2 linked regions of the Homo sapiens genome follow. The protein of the gene in region 2 interacts with the protein of the main gene of each other region in a pairwise test. Each region holds a gene or a part of one and is shown on either strand. Other genes may lie near its edges.

What was found.
Region 1: the proteins of ELAVL4 (region 2) and RNF111 interact in binary tests that used the Homo sapiens proteins (3 or more experiments, as listed by UniProt).

The regions. Positions count from the first base shown.
Region 1 is NC_000015.10:59,088,257-59,096,334, reverse strand, and holds part of RNF111 (E3 ubiquitin-protein ligase Arkadia), read right to left. Parts: intron 6,669-8,078; coding exon 6,576-6,668; intron 5,277-6,575; coding exon 5,181-5,276; intron 3,823-5,180; coding exon of another isoform or gene 3,799-3,822; coding exon 3,695-3,798; intron 1,553-3,694; coding exon 1,435-1,552; 3' UTR 1-1,434. UniProt on the Homo sapiens protein: E3 ubiquitin-protein ligase. Required for mesoderm patterning during embryonic development. Acts as an enhancer of the transcriptional responses of the SMAD2/SMAD3 effectors, which are activated downstream of BMP.
Region 2 is NC_000001.11:50,188,088-50,196,165, forward strand, and holds part of ELAVL4 (ELAV-like protein 4), read left to right. Parts: intron 1-5,677; coding exon 5,678-5,831; intron 5,832-7,473; coding exon 7,474-7,699; intron 7,700-8,078. UniProt on the Homo sapiens protein: RNA-binding protein that is involved in the post-transcriptional regulation of mRNAs. Plays a role in the regulation of mRNA stability, alternative splicing and translation.

The sequences.
Region 1 (8,078 bases), on a different chromosome or scaffold from region 2:
ATGTCCTCCACATACAGACAGTGATATTACTGACTGGATGCATTTGCAATCTGGGGCATATTAAGCATATTTAAACAAATAAAATTAGGCTATCCTGTATATGAAAGTATCTTGATAATAATATGCATCCTGAAGTAGATTAAAACTTCCTCCAAAGGAGAAATGTTAGTATGTTAACTTAACTTTATATTCTATATTATGCAGTAAATCTTAACTATAGAAATTAAAAATTTTAAATCAGTGATCGACTCTTGGTAATGTATGAAGTGGGAGTATATAACCATAGCAACAGTAGGTTGACAGTATAATTTGTGCCTCACAGTATCTGCAGATTTACTGTTTTCAAGTTTAGAGAGAAATAAAACAAGAGACATGTAGATTCAGCTGACTTTATTTACCTTTAAACTAATAAAAATCCCTTAAAAGTGATCCTGGGACCTTTATAAGTTCTATGAATGCACAGATACCTGCCAGTGACTTAAATTCCAAATCTTGACTTAATGTGTCTACAAAATCAATGTAAGCAGATATCTTAACTTTTCGTGCTTAGCAGAAGACAACAAATTCTACATGTCTTTTTCAATTTCCCTAAAATTTTGTTAAATCTGCAAGTATGTACAATCTAGCTAATTGAAATTAATATTTAGTGTTCATCAGAGCTGTTTCACAGCAGCAAAAACTGAATCAGGGAAATAAAATTCTAAATGATGTAGGAAAAAGATAAATGCAATCAGAACAGCAGTCTAAATGTATGATATCAATATTCAACTCTTATCTGCACTGTGTTGAAAGGAAAAGGATACACCAAGAAAATTTATACTGATCACTCTGGTGATGTGACTACCACCTGCATCTGATTTATATGGGTTGTATTCTGTTCCCAGTATTAAGGATGGTATTTAACTCAGAACTCCATATAGTAAATATACAGCAGCCATTTTGTCCTAATTAAGGAATGTCTTAATACACAATATTATCATTTTCTAGAGGATCTTTATACATTAAACTAAAGTACATGATTGATTAAATTAAAGGTTAGTAATGGATAAAAAATTCATAATTATCAAGGCTTGGTACTATGTAAAAAACAAAAAGACCACAAAATTCTACTTACTAAAGCAGCTAACCTTGCCTGCAAGTTTAGGGTCACAAGCCCATAATATGTGCAAAGAAATGCAATACAAGGAACCATGCAAAAATACAGTAAAATGATACAGAAAAATGTCAAATCTAGAAAAAAAAGCTTTTATAAATACATCAAAATCAACTGTATACATAAACTGTAGGTCTAGCATTAGTTGTACCATATAGCAGAGCCAGCACTCTAAGTTCAATGCTTCCAAATCTGCGCAGGTAAGTCATGCCATCTTTGGTTGACTGCAGTACCAGGAAGGATGGGAATGAGAGGGAGGGCAAGAGTTCTGAAACATGGTGTCAACTTTCACTTGGCAGCTGGGCCTCAATGTCCACTCTGCATATGGGGCACTTCTTATTGGTAATCAACCATTGGTCAACACACACTTGGTGGAAAAGGTGCATACATGGAAGACGTCTATTATTGGCAAGAAAACAAAAAGCAAAAATTAATTTTATGATAATTGTACGTAGTTAACAAATTATATATGTAATAATTCAATAATGTTTTGAAGGTACTAAGCATCTTCCTCTTCTATAAAAAACACATCGATTAAATTAGCACTCTGGGCAATATAATATATAAATGATCAAGATAATTAACTTTCAAAGCTACAGGACCAAATTATATAAAATCTTAAAAACTGTAAGAACACAAATTACACTGCCAATTATTCCAGTTTTGTTTTGGTACAGGAGCTGCCAATGCCCTGGAGTTAGCAGTATGTTACCTGTCACATAATATTGCAAATATATTTTTAAAAATCAAATCATCACTGTATTTGTAATGCCCTTTAAAAATACATATTATCTCAAATATATATTTATTACATCATTTAATTCTCTCTCAAAAACATTACAATTCATGTGGCAAATATATAGTAACTACACTTTCCTCACTAAAAAATGTCTTATTGTGCAATGTTATTTTCTATCAAGAATATCTTTACACATTAAACTTAAGTACATAACTGATTAAAGGTGAGTAATACTTTTTTCACGGAATAATTGTTATATACACTTAATATTGTGCTACTGTTTAACAGGTAAGTTAAAAGGAGATGTAATGATTTGTTTGTTTACATCATGCCAAATTACCAATTAGAAATTGAGAAATAAAGCCCCCAAGCAAGATAGGGTAACATTAAATCTGAGTGTTAACAGTGGAATAAAAGTTACTGACTCGTGTCCATTTCTACTTCTAGCAACTGTTAAGAGTTTTTATACACTTTTCAGACTTCCTAATATCTTGTTAAAATAATAGCCTTAAAAAGTATCCCAATTATTCCTTGAACAGTATTGTCAATACTGTAAAAGCAATTAAGTTCCAAATTTATAAACCTTCATTAGAAATACAGTGTGCAAAAAACCTTATTTGTCGTATGGTAGACAATTTTTTTCTCAGCCAACTGAAGAGGTACGACAAAGTTATCCTTATAAATTAGGGCAATAATATTACTACAAGGTTCTGTTATATATGATATAGAACCTGTTTCATATGGCATTATGTTAACATTAAAAAAAAGAACAGGAAGAAAACAATTACTTAAGTGATTATACAAAGAAAATGCCTAAAATTAATATAGGGTTAACATATTAACATTTTCTAAACAACAAAGGTGCAAGAAGGGAATAGTCCTACTAGTTTAGAGGAAATTTTATGACAAAACCAGTTTATAAAAGATGCTATAGCCGAGTGCAGTGGCTTACGCCTGTAATCCCAGCATTTTGGGAGGCTGAGGTAGGTGGATCGCTTCAGCCCAGGAGGTGGAGGTTGCAGTGAGCTGAGACTGCTGCCCTGAGCCTGGGCAACAGAAGGAGACCATCTCCCAGAAAAGGAAAAAAAAAAAAAAAAAAAAAAAAGATGCTGTAAAACAGACTGCATAGGACTAATCTGGATCCCTGTTTAAGTTTTGAAGAACACATTATAACTTTCTAGGACCTCCAAAGCCTCTCAAATTCTCATTTCTGCAAGATTTACAGAAGACAATTTTGACTACGAAATTTCCCTGGCCAAACCTTGTGTGGCCCTACAATAGGCAGTATATTTCCCACTCCCATGTTGGTAACATAGATACTTTAATCTTTTATTGTTTCACTCGCCAGATGAAGCCAGTTCTACGTGCCAGAAATTGGTAACAGTATATGCCAAAAGTAATCTTTATTTGGTTTCCAGTTTACTTTTACTCTTTTTTTTCAGAGACAGGGTCTCACTCTATTGCCCAGGCTGGAGTGCAGTGTGGTGTGCTCAAAGCTCACTGCAGTCTCAAACTCCTGGGCTTGAGCCATCCTCCTGCCTTAGTCTCCTGAGTAGCTGGCACTGCAGGTGCACACCATCACATGCAAATAATTGTACTATTTTTCTTTTTTGTAGAAACAGAGTCTTGTTATGTTGCCCAGGTTGGCCTCAAACTCCTGGCCTCAAGAGAGCCTCTGGCCTTGGCCTCAAAAAGTGCTGGAATTACACGTGTGAGCCATCATGCCCGGTGTAATTTACTTTTCAAATAAAATCCCATGTACAGTTTTGACAATGGATTTTAGATAATTAATATCTAGTTACCTCACATCTTCACCTTCCTCTAAAATAGACAAACAGATAGTACATTTTTCCTCTGTGTCTTCCTCAGTCCCTTCTTCCCCATCTTGTTTGCAGTGCAGTTTCCTCTGTGAGAACCAATCAGTTGTTACCTTATTAGTAGAGATGACATTATTGAACAACTGAGTAAAGTCTGTGTTTATTTGAAAAACAAAACAAAACAAAACCACATATTCACCCGCACTTTTTTCCCAGGTAAGACTGTCATAAATAAATGGATGAATTAAGTGACTATCATCAATTAAGTATATTTTTAAGACCCTCTAATAATTGGGATCAAAAGCAAAATCAAATTTAACAGAAATTCATTCACTTAAAAGCTATTACTTTTAATCCACAATGAGAATGATAAACAATATAAACTATTTTTATCCTACCATGAGCATAAATAAGTTTTTTTTATTAGTGAATGTTTCAAGTAACATCCATTTAAATTAACATTAGTTACAGTATTTAACTTGGACAGTTGAAAACTTGAATGTACTGGTAATACCTCAATACTCTTTGAAAATAGATGAAAAATACAGAGAATAGTAATTTTCACACTTTATGATTATTCTTTACATAGTATAAAGGAGTCTCCAACCCCTGGGCTGCAAACCAGTACCTGGCTGCACAGCAGGAGGTGAGTGGCAGGTGAGCGAGCATCACTGCTGGAGCTCTTCCTCCTGTCAGATCAGCAGCAGCGATAGATTCTCATAGAAGCGTGAACCCTATTGTAAACTGTGCATGTGAGGGATCTAGGTTGCATGCTCCTTAAGAGAATCTAACTAATGCCTGATAATCTGAGGTGGAATAGTTTCATTCTGAAACTATCCCCTCTGCCACCTATCCATGAAAAATTGTCTTCCATGAAAACTGGTCCCTGGTGTCAAAAAGGTTGGGGACCGTTGGTATTGAGCATGGTTTAAGACACGTATTTAACATGTCTACCCCATAACTGTATAATGCTATACAAGCAACTGAGGGTAGAGTAGAAGAAACATACATCAATAAAATGTCCGTCAAAATAAATTGCTAGTTAAAAAAATTACAGTACTGCCATATGATGGAATTCTGCATAAGCTATTAAAAATAATAAGGGTGATCTGTGGGAGCTAATTGGCATGAAAGGCAATCTGCAAACTATGTGGTAATCATCTCCTTTTGTGTTTTTTTTAAAGTAGACAAAAATATATATACATATGCACATTATTAGAAAATGCTAAAAAATATCTAGAAGAATATCTAAATCCTTAACTATGATTTCACTTCTGGGAAGAAGGACTAGGGTCTGCAGAGTAAAAAACTGCAAAGTATATATTTTTTATACTTTCCAAAATTTTTAAACAATATGTATGCATTACTTCAATAAAAATGTCATTGCTAGAGTCTACAAATTCAAAAAAGGTATATATTACATTTATGCCTTTCAGTAACACTCCAGAAGTTTCATAGAATAAATTCTTACCTTTTTGTATTTATGTGGATATGTACATCTTTCAATTGTCCCCTGGGATGCTCCACGATTGACATTGCCTAATCTTTCTTCCAAATGAATCAGTTCCTGAAAGTGAAGAATATAATGACTGGTAAAAGCCAAGATGATTATTCCTTGAACAGAACTGTCAACATTGTATAAGAAATAAACCTCCATACTTAGAAACTTGCAATATAAATACAGTGTTCAAAAAAACTTACACATGACAAGTGGTTACTTATATATAAGTATATATATAAAACAGTTTATATGTTGCCCAGGCTGGTCTCAAACTCCTGGCCTCAAGTGATCCTCCCACCTCGGCCTCCTAAACTGCTGAGATTACAGGTGTGAGCCACCATGCCTGACTTAATGTTTCTCATAGACAGTAAGGCAAATGGTTGTTTATCATGTTTTCCTCAGCCAACTGAAATGGTACAGCAAAAGTTATCTTTATAAATTACAACAATATTATCACATGGTACTATGTAAGTCAGTATGTATGTATGTATGGAGAAGATGAAATAATTCTAGTAAATTAAGGAACCAAATCAAACAATAGTTCTAAGTCACAATGACTCCAACTTCCAAACTGACATAAAAAAAACACAACGGGGGCCGGGTGCGGTGGCTTGCGCCTGTAATCCCAGTACTTTGGGAGGCCAAGGTGGGTGGATCACTTGAGGTCAGGAGTTCAAGAGCAGCCTGGCCAACATGGCAAAACACTATCTCTACTAAAAATACAAAAATTAGCCGGGCGTGGTGGCGGGCACCTGTAATCCCAGCTACTCAGGAAGCCGAGGCAGGAGAATTGCTTGAACCCAGGAGGCGCAGGTTGCAGTGAGCTGAGATTGTGCAACTGCACTCCAGTCTGGGTGACAGAGCAAGACTCCATCTAAAAAAACAACAACAACAAACAAACAAACAAACAAACAAAAAAACAAACCACAACAAAACTTTAAATCCCATTCGAATGATTTGTTCTTCCTGAAAATTCAAACAAGACATTTAGCTACAAAGGGAATTACTTAAGTTTCTTTTTCTCTACCGATTTCTCTAAAAATTTAGCTGAGTCAAAAACATTCCGTTCCCCACCACATTTAATGGTATAGTTATATATCTGACATTTATATTGATTTAATACATTTTTATATTCTTCTATATTAGATATTTTCATTTACTCATCTTTAAATATTTCGGTAACTTTTGACCCTAAGATTAATAATACTTACAAATATTTCTGTAACTCCCAGAAGCAACATCAGAAAATCACATGTGATTCCCAGCCACTGTAGCAGTCCTACACAATTGTGTATAGTAGTATATATATACTCAATCTGCATTAAAGATACTGTGACAAACATATTCATTTATTTTATTACATACCTCAAAATTGCCCCTGAAAGGACCTCTGAATGATGTTCCATCCAATCCTGATGAAATGTAACGGATGTGAGGATAGCCTGCCATATCAGGAACCTATTTCAACAGAAGAGATAGGCTAAATCAATTTTAAGAATAGACTTGTGATTTACTGTTAACATTGAATAATTCAAGACCCTCAATGTTTTCAATTCAACTGCTCATAAAATTTGACTTCAATAAGAATACATAACTCCAACTAAGCATTCTGTAACAGGTTTAGGTTTCTGTTAAAATATAACCTAACTCTCCAAAATGCCCAAACTTAAGCCTGAGGCTCTTAGTAGCTCAAACTTGAAAAGAGTAAAATTGTCTTAAGATCCTGTCCATTTCAGAGAGCTTTATTAAAACAACAACAAAAAATGCACACAATTTTCCAACAAAATTCGACTTCAAGATAAGTTTTTTACTTCACTTCTGTTAAGCTTCCTAACAGCCAAAGTACCCTATGCCTTTTTTGCTTGATTCTATTAGGGAAACTTTTAACACTGTTTTCTAATTTTTTGTTAGTTACAGTCAATCTTCATTATTTATGGATTACATATGTGTGAACTGACCCACAGGCTAAAATTTACTTGTAACCCCATAATCAACACTTGTGCTTTCAGAGTCATTCGTGGATATGACCGGTGGCAAAAAATTGCAGTTGCCCAACATGCAACTCTGTTCCCAGCTGAGGTAGAACAGGGCTCTGCCGTATTTGAGCTCCTACTATAAACCAGTGTCTTGTTTGCAGACTGTTTAGTGCCACGTTTTTCACAGTTTTGTGCTTTTTGTTGGTGATTGTGTTGTTTAAAATGGCACCCAAGCATAGAGCTGAAGTGCTGTCTAGTGTTCCTAAGCAAAGAAGGCTGTCATACACCTTATGGAGAGAATAAGTTTCATTCACGCATGAGTTACAGTGTTGTTGGCTATGAGTTCAATGTTAATGATTCTACAATATTTTTTAAAGTTGTCTTTAAGCAGAAACACACATAAAAAAGGTTATACACTGATTAGTTGTGAACAGAGGTTTGCAAGGGTCCCATATTTGCTAATTCAGTGTTTGCAGCAACTGTATAGATCATAACTGCCATGCATAGTGAGAGTATTAGGAAAGGGCATTTCTGAGATACAGCACCATTCTTCCATCTTTATAAATAAATCTCTGACATTACTTTTTAATTAGCCTACACTGAATCACAACATACTTTAAGCAGAATTTATAGCTTTAACGGACACTTCATATGTGGAAAAGAATTTAAATAAGCAATAACTTTTAACCTTCAATAGCCTATTACTTAAATTGTTTACAACTTTTCTTATAACCAAGATCATTACTACTCAGCAGATAACCCAACCTCCTAAACATCTTCAAAGAAATCGGAAAGGAACTCCTGCATCCCAAATTATCTAAATCTTCACTTACCCTGAAAAGCCTCTCCTCCCTAGTCTCTTTCCTCCAGCCTTTATGGATGAGCTTTTCTC
Region 2 (8,078 bases):
TGGTCTCAAAAAAAAAAATTAATCATGGCCAGCAATAGTGTAGGATGCCTCATGAGGTGGTGAGCTTCCTGTCCTTGGAAATGTATACATTGAATGGTCGGCTGTCTTGGATCATGCCATGAACTTTTGGGGCCACTTCCAGCACCAAATTTCTGTGAAGCAGATTTCAGGAATATAACTTTCTGCTGAGTTCCCCATTGCCACTGTATGTCACCTTTATGTGACACTTACTATGTCTCCACTTACTATGAACCACAGTTATAGAAATTTGCAGTTTTGTGAACAGAATGCCTGGCTCATGAAAAAAATCCAGTCAATGATAGAGGCCACGTCATTACTCTAATCCACAGGGGCCCAACAAATGGCGTTGCTGTTTTCCACATCCAAGTTCTAAACCAATTGAGAAGTAAGACAAAAGAGAAAAGTGTATGGAATCCTAAGGTCATCTTTATTGCCAATTAAGGCCTGGATGGGTTGCATGGACACAGTGGGCTCCATAACACTGAACTTTACACTTTGACAGACTGACACACCCTGTCACAAGTGCTCTAGACCCCACAGGCCGAGAGCAGAGCCTGCCCCCATAAGACTGAGAGCCTGGAACAGAATGTGTGCTTCCAGCTGGCGTCTGGCTCCCAGAAGGGAAGAAGCAGGCAGCATTTGAGCCTCACATGCCCATTTCTTTTATTGAAGCCTCCATTCAGAGGAGTCACTTCTTTTCCCTGGGGAAGAGTGGATGAAGGGATAGCAATAGGCCTGGTCTGTTGCTGCAGGGGGTTCTCTCCACATGGAAGGAAACACTGGGAGTGGGAAATGAGTATCTCCCTGTTGGAAGCAGCCCTCTGTATTGCATGCTTCATTTGTTTACTTTCCTTTCCAGACTGGGATTCGTGAAGCAGAGACATTCCCAACACCCATCCCAGGGCCTGGCACATAGTAGATGTTTAGGAAGGGGAGGAATGAATGAACTCCCATCTTCTAATGCCAGTGTTTTTCTAAAGGAGCAATTTTCTGGGGCTAAAAAGGATGCCTTTTCCCTCTCATTTTATCCTCCTCATTGCACCCAACATGCCTTTATCGTGTTTTCCATGTCCTCTCCCTTTTCTGTATTATGGAGGACAGACAAGGAGTGAGGTATTGCTGGATGATTCAGGGAACATTCTTCCTCAGGTCATGCTGTTCTTCCCACCCTGCCCAGGCCAAGCCCTGTGTATGAACAGGTAAAGGGAGTTGTGGGTGCTGCATGGGAAGAGGCAGCCCTCAGCCCTCGTCCTGATGCCCCATCTGTGATGAATGACAACGCCTGCTTTACCCACCTTGGTGAGACTTGCTGAGAGCAGAATTGGGAAGTCACTTTGGAAAGTGGAAAGTACTTTGTCGGCATAAAGCAGTGGGATCTGTGGAAATGTGTTAGAGGACATTCATGTCAGTAAAGTGGTAAAAGATGGTCCAGACCCCACCAGGGTGGCAGAGGAGGGCAGTGCCTCTACAGGCATTCCCTGGTAGTGTTCCACATGTTTTTTTTGTTTGTTTTTTGGGGGTTTTTTTCCGGTGAAATTGGAGGGTATGTCCCAATGGGAGCTAGATTCCCAGGCTGGCCCACAAAAGCCTGTATGACTCATCACATAATAATATGTGTAAGTATCTACTAAGTTCTAGGTATGTGCTAGACAAATATATCAACTCAGTTCTTACAATAACCCATCAAAGGATAATTGACCCCCTTTTTACGAGCAAAGATGTTGAGACTTATCAAGATCAAATTACTTGCCTAAGGTCATGCAGCTAGTGAGTACTGGAGCTGACCCACAGTCAGGGATCATAAGCATGATGCTATAGCATCCTTCTGGTGGAGGATGGGAAGACTGTGAGCACCAGGGATGGGGAGAGCTGAGGAGCTTGGAGGGACTTCAGATCTTCCATAGAGATCATCTGTAAAGTCAGCTGCTTACAGTCACCTGGCTTTGAGCCACCCCTACCCAGAGAGAGGAGTGGCTTCTTCACTCCCAGCCCTTTCTGAGTTCCAGAAGGAGGTCAGTGCTGGCCTAGAGATGCCAGTCTTGTCTTCAGAGATTCTGGATGAATGAAGCAAACAGGATCCTGACTGAGGCAAGGGGGGTTCTCCAGGGCGCTGGCTCCAGTGTTGGAAGCCCTGTGACTCCAGGCCACTGGCCCAGGGGCATTAATATGCCATCAATGCTGACCCTGAAAATTGGCAATTTTTTGGAAATCTTTCAGCCTAACCAAGGGCCTGACCACTGTAGTCATTCAGTTAGAATTTAATACATGTATATGGAAAGTTGAAAATTTTAGGTACTAGGATGAACATTTGGATATTCAATGCAGGAAGATCTTTTTTCTGTCATTTTTGTTTATCCATACGCCACAGGTTTCATGGACAGGAAACTGAGAGAACAATAGACTTAAGGTTCCATATAGGTGAGAAATACTAAACAGGAATTAGACTTGGTAGAGAATGATTGATGTGCTGTTCACCTTTGGGATTTGTTGCTGCCTTTGGGGATTTAGGGTCTGTCTCTGGAGATGTGTTGCAGTAATTCTCCCTAGCTGAGATTCTACCTATGTTGGAATCAACTTTTGGGGAAATGGTTTTTGTTGTGTCACCAACTTTCAAGTGCCAGCTCCTCTTCCCTGGCAGGGTTCACCCTGTTCCCTCTGTACCCTAGCTCTGGCTGTGCAGAACTAATGGGAGTTAAGGTCATGACTATCCATTATGCATTTATTGGGTGCCAGGTACTGTGCTAAGCCCTTGATCTTCATCACCTCATTTGTCCTCGTGACAGAGGAAGGCTATTATCAGGCCACCATTACCTGACTCCACCACCACCTTTCTCACCACCAGTCTCAGCTCAGCTGTGTCTCCTTCCCGGCCCTTTTAACCTTTGATTAATCTCTCCCTCCTCTGTGTTTTAGTCACACTCATATGTATCCCTGGCATAACACACACATCTTGTGGCACTGTGATAATTGGTCTGTATGTTTACTCATCCATTCTTTTGTTCAACACATTTTATTGAGTGCCTCTTATGTGTTGTCTGTTGCCCTCTTTGGACTTGGAGTTCCTTTACAGCAAGAGACTATGCCTTGTTCTTGCTGTGTTGCCAACACATACCACTGTACCTGGCTCATAGTAGATCCTCAGGAAATATTTGCTAAGAGAAGGCCTCTATGTGAGGTCTAGTCCTAGAACAATCTTCTTTCAGTCCTTCCAGCCCCAGGCATTGGAAAATGGGAAATATGTCCCTTAGCTCTTAGCTTGGTGGAGAAACACAGCTGGGATTCTGGGTGCCTGACTCTCAGTGGTCCACCTTACTGGAGTTACAGTTAACTCCAAAGAGCCAATAATATCAACATCATTTCTCATGAGCTGTGGGTGTTTATTCATTTTTTCAGTAGGTGTTGAACACTTTATAGGTATCAGGCTATGTGCTGGGAGCTAGAGTCACAGAGTTGAATAGGACACACACACACACAAGACCTACAACCTAAAGAGATCATCAGCCTAGATGGAGAGGTGGTCAGTTAAGGTTGAAACGGGTTAAGTACCATGGTTCATTGAGAACACTGCTGGGGAGATTTTTAGGAGAAGGTGAGATTAGAGAAAGCTGCCTAGAGAAGATGTCATTTGATCTGAGCCCTGAAGAGGAGTAGGATTTGGACTTGAGGAAGTAGGTATAAAAAAAATGTCTGTATGAGCAAAGGTATAAAGGTGGTAGGTTGTGTTTTGAGGGAGCACAAATGTCATTCGGATAATTAATTTGTCAGTAATTGGCAAGGTGAAACAAGGGTGACCCTCATTGCCATGGGCATATCACTATGATGTTTTTATTTCCTTCTTCCACTTCTTCCTCTTACTCAAAAAATAGTTCTGCTATTGACACACTTTGTCCCTTAAAGAACAGGGGTGGGAGAACCTTCTGTGGAGTGAAGCCCTGTCCAGACAGTCACATGGGGTTCTTAGTCCTTCAGCCCACACTGCAAATGCACACACTGGGACCCCCTATATAAAGGCCCCTCTACATCTCAGCCATGTGCTGAGAAGGAGCCCACAGAGGCCTCCCAGCCCACCCGTGAGTTTCTAGAAGATGGAGATACTGAAGGCAGCTGCCTCACTCCATCAGCAGGAGGAGGCCAGGGAGGCAGATTAGTCACTCACATCATTTTATCTGTTGAGTCAACATCTATTTTTAGGCATGGAACCCATAAAGGGACCTGGCATGTCTGTCATGGAAAGGGGGAGAGTGCCATGGATGAGGGTTCTGCTCATCCTTCATCTTCTTTGCTAGACCCATTCTCTCCCCTGAAGGTCACAGAAGCAGGGTCCACATTACTGCTGGAGGTTTAGGTCTTAATGTCAAAGGTCTGGTTTAATGTGTTCAATTCCTTTTGCACACATGCTTTTGTGTGCACGCACACACACACACACACACACACACACACACACACACACACACACTCTCACCCCTACAGTCTTAATAGGTCTTATGAATCAGTTGTATGGATTAAATAGAACTTCCAACTGAAAAACGCTAAGGCATATAGGTCTCTTCCTGTCCAACGTTGTCAGATGTGCTCTGAAATGACTGTTTTCATCATCTATTCTGAGCCATAACCACCCCAGAAATAGCTTTAGCAGGAAAGTGCTTTTGTTAGACTAGCTGTAAATTATATTTCAAATGTCTGATGTTGTTTTCTTAAAAAATAAATAAATAAGTAAATGAAAGTCTAAAATTAATGACTGCTGGGGTTTGCTTTGCTTATGTGTACTGCTACAGATTTGGCTTCTTGCAGATGGAATTTCAGATCTGTTTACACTTCTGTGTTAGCTTTTGGGGGGAAGAAAAGCAGTTGAGAGATCTGGGAGGACAAATTTACAAAGTCGAACTTATTATAACCATTGGTGAGGCTCTCTTCTCTCTCTCTACTGCCCTTTCCCTCCCTCCTTTCCATCTTGCCCCCATTTTATTTGTTGTGGTTTTTATCTGCCCTGCTTCAAAGTTAGAGGCGACTGGTCCTTGCAGATGTGACGACAAGGTCACATATCCAGTTTCGCAAGCAGATGTTCATTCAGCCCTATTTCACCAGCACTTTGTCATTTGGTGAGAGCAGACCTCATGGGAACAGACTGGAGCAACACAAAGGATGGAACATAAAAAAATCTTGCAGAGAACCTGATTGCTTTTATGTATTCAGGAAGAAGGGGATGGGGGTAGGGAGGGTGGCAAGGAGAGAAATGTGCAGAGCAGAATTTCATGAGGTTTTTTTTTTTTTTCTGGTTTATTCAAAGATTATTATGTGTTGGATACAGTAAATCATCTATACACCCACTTCCAGGAGGTAAATCTTCAGAACTCCATGTGTGGGTAGCTCTGCATTTAACAGCTGCCATACAGTAGCTATTTTGTTCTGCACTTAGAGACCCTTATCTGTGCATTTGTTTTAAGTTATTGTCAACTCTCCTGTTGTTCCTCTATTGTTGTTCTCCTGGTTCTCATTACTATTACAAGGGTAGCTAAAAATCTGAACTACTGAGTGATTTAAACTGACACCATGAGTTGTAACGGTAGATGAGGGGCTGTCATCTTGGTTGTGGACTCAGCATCTACTCTGAGGGTGATTGCCTATAATGGAATTAGCTCCTCTTGCCTTTTCCTAGGTCTCATATGCCCGTCCGAGCTCTGCCTCAATCAGGGATGCTAACCTCTATGTTAGCGGCCTTCCCAAAACCATGACCCAGAAGGAACTGGAGCAACTTTTCTCGCAATACGGCCGTATCATCACCTCACGAATCCTGGTTGATCAAGTCACAGGTTAAGTGTTTCTTTGTAATTTCTTTCCTTGTATATCAATGTCATCAGCCCTGTTACTCATAAGAGCAGAAGGCTGATGGCTGCTTAAAGCAGATGATATGGATCATGAATAGACAGATTTTTGACTTGGAAGAAAGACTTCTTATCGGTCAACTGCCCAAATTTAAAATGGGCCATCTTGGGAGGTAGGAGTTCTCCATCATGGGACTTGTTTTAGCAGCAGCTAAACTACTTGCCAGGGTTGTAAAAAGGATTCAGGCATCAGGCTGAGAGTGGAACTGTATGACCTTCAAAGTCTGATTCAGCCCTCAACCAAATAACATTACTTTTGTATGTGAAAAGAACCTGTATGCATAGCTGTAACTCCAATTCATAGCATTATAGAGTTAGAAGGAATTGTCCCATTTCACACTTGAGGAAACAGGTTGAAAGTGGGGGATCTGACTCCCCAAAGCTAGTTAGTAGCAGTACAAGGATCTGAACCGAGGATCTGGTACTGGTGTTCTTTGTCCATAATAAAGAAAGGCAGCCACCACCTCTCAGTAAGAAATGTCAGGTACTCTGGGTTGCACTTTTAATGACAAGGTGTTTTCGCCTACCTCCAATTTGATTCCAATTTAGAACTCACCCCCTGAGAATAGTTTAGCACGTTTATCATGTGATTCATGAGACAAACCTTCACAGAAGTCTGCTCTGCCCTAGACATTGTGCAGAGGGACCCTGGAGACCAAGAAAGAAGCAGGCACTGCCCCACCCTTACAGGACTCCAGTGTGGAGTCCAAATACTTGCTAGAAGCTGTCAAGTGCCCCTGAGAGCTCAGGAGAAGGTGTGCCATGCCTGGTGGGAATTGCTAGGAGGGCCCCATTGAGGAGGCAATGTTTGAATAGGAGTTTGGAGGATGTTTCAGAGGTATCCAGCAAAAAGGAGGGACAGAGCAGTGTAAGTGGAGAGGAGAGCATATCCCAAGGCATGGAATCGAGGAAGAACAGTCTATTCGAGGAGGATCAGGCAGTTCAGGGTGGCTGGTGTGAGCCTCAATAGGGAATTTGGGGCCAGATTGCCAGAGGCATTGAATGCTGTGCCAAGAAGTCTGGACTTTATCTGGGTGCAGAATGGAGCCATGGAAGGGTATTTTGTAGGTTTTGTTTGTTTGTTATTCATTTTAGAATGGGAGTCAGTGAAGAATAGGTACTATGCACAAGGTACAAAATTCAAAAAGTACAAAAGAGATACAGAAGATGTTTTTAAAGCATATCATGTGGTCAGAGTTCACTTTTCAAATAGATTGCACACTAGCTACATGTGGAGGACACATGAGAAGACTAGAAACTGGACAGTGAGTGATCAGTTATAGTAACTTTTGGGAGGTGATGATGGGGCAGAGCAGTGATAGAGGACTAGAGGGGCCAGATGCAAGAGAGCCCTGTGTTCTGTGGCTGGGAGGCATCAGTCCAGAGCCATGATAGCAGGAATGCAGGTAAACGTGTTTTGATTGGTGAGAGAGATCAGGGAGCTGGGCTCAGCCCTGGCACCACAGGTGGGCTTACTCCTCACACAATATCCACAGGACCCATCTCTTCCCAAAGATGTTTACCAGTTTGGTGTGTTCACTCTTTACAAAGGCTCTTTCTCTTTCCCCAGGAGTGTCCAGAGGGGTGGGATTCATCCGCTTTGATAAGAGGATTGAGGCAGAAGAAGCCATCAAAGGGCTGAATGGCCAGAAGCCCAGCGGTGCTACGGAACCGATTACTGTGAAGTTTGCCAACAACCCCAGCCAGAAGTCCAGCCAGGCCCTGCTCTCCCAGCTCTACCAGTCCCCCAACCGGCGCTACCCAGGTCCACTTCACCACCAGGCTCAGAGGTTCAGGTAGGCATGCCCAAAGAGGAAGAAGCCCTGCTACAGGGGTTCATAGCTGGGCAAGAGCCAGGGAAGCCCATGGTCCTGACAAATGGGGCAAGGGTAAAAGCTTCCACCCCCAGGAATCACTGTGCAAAACTCCCCCCGAGCCTCAGTTTCCATTCCTGTAAAATGAGACAGTTGGAGCAGATGCCCTTCTAAGCCCTCTTCCAATTTACTACTGTGACTGTATAAACTTTAGATTCTTTGGTAGAAACAAAATGTCTGTATTTAACCAAACATGAAGGTTCAGTTTCAACAAGAGTTAATCACAGATCAGTGACCACATTCAGCAGATTAGACTTAAGGCTGGACAGTGGCTTTTAATAAATTCAAAAAATAGACCATA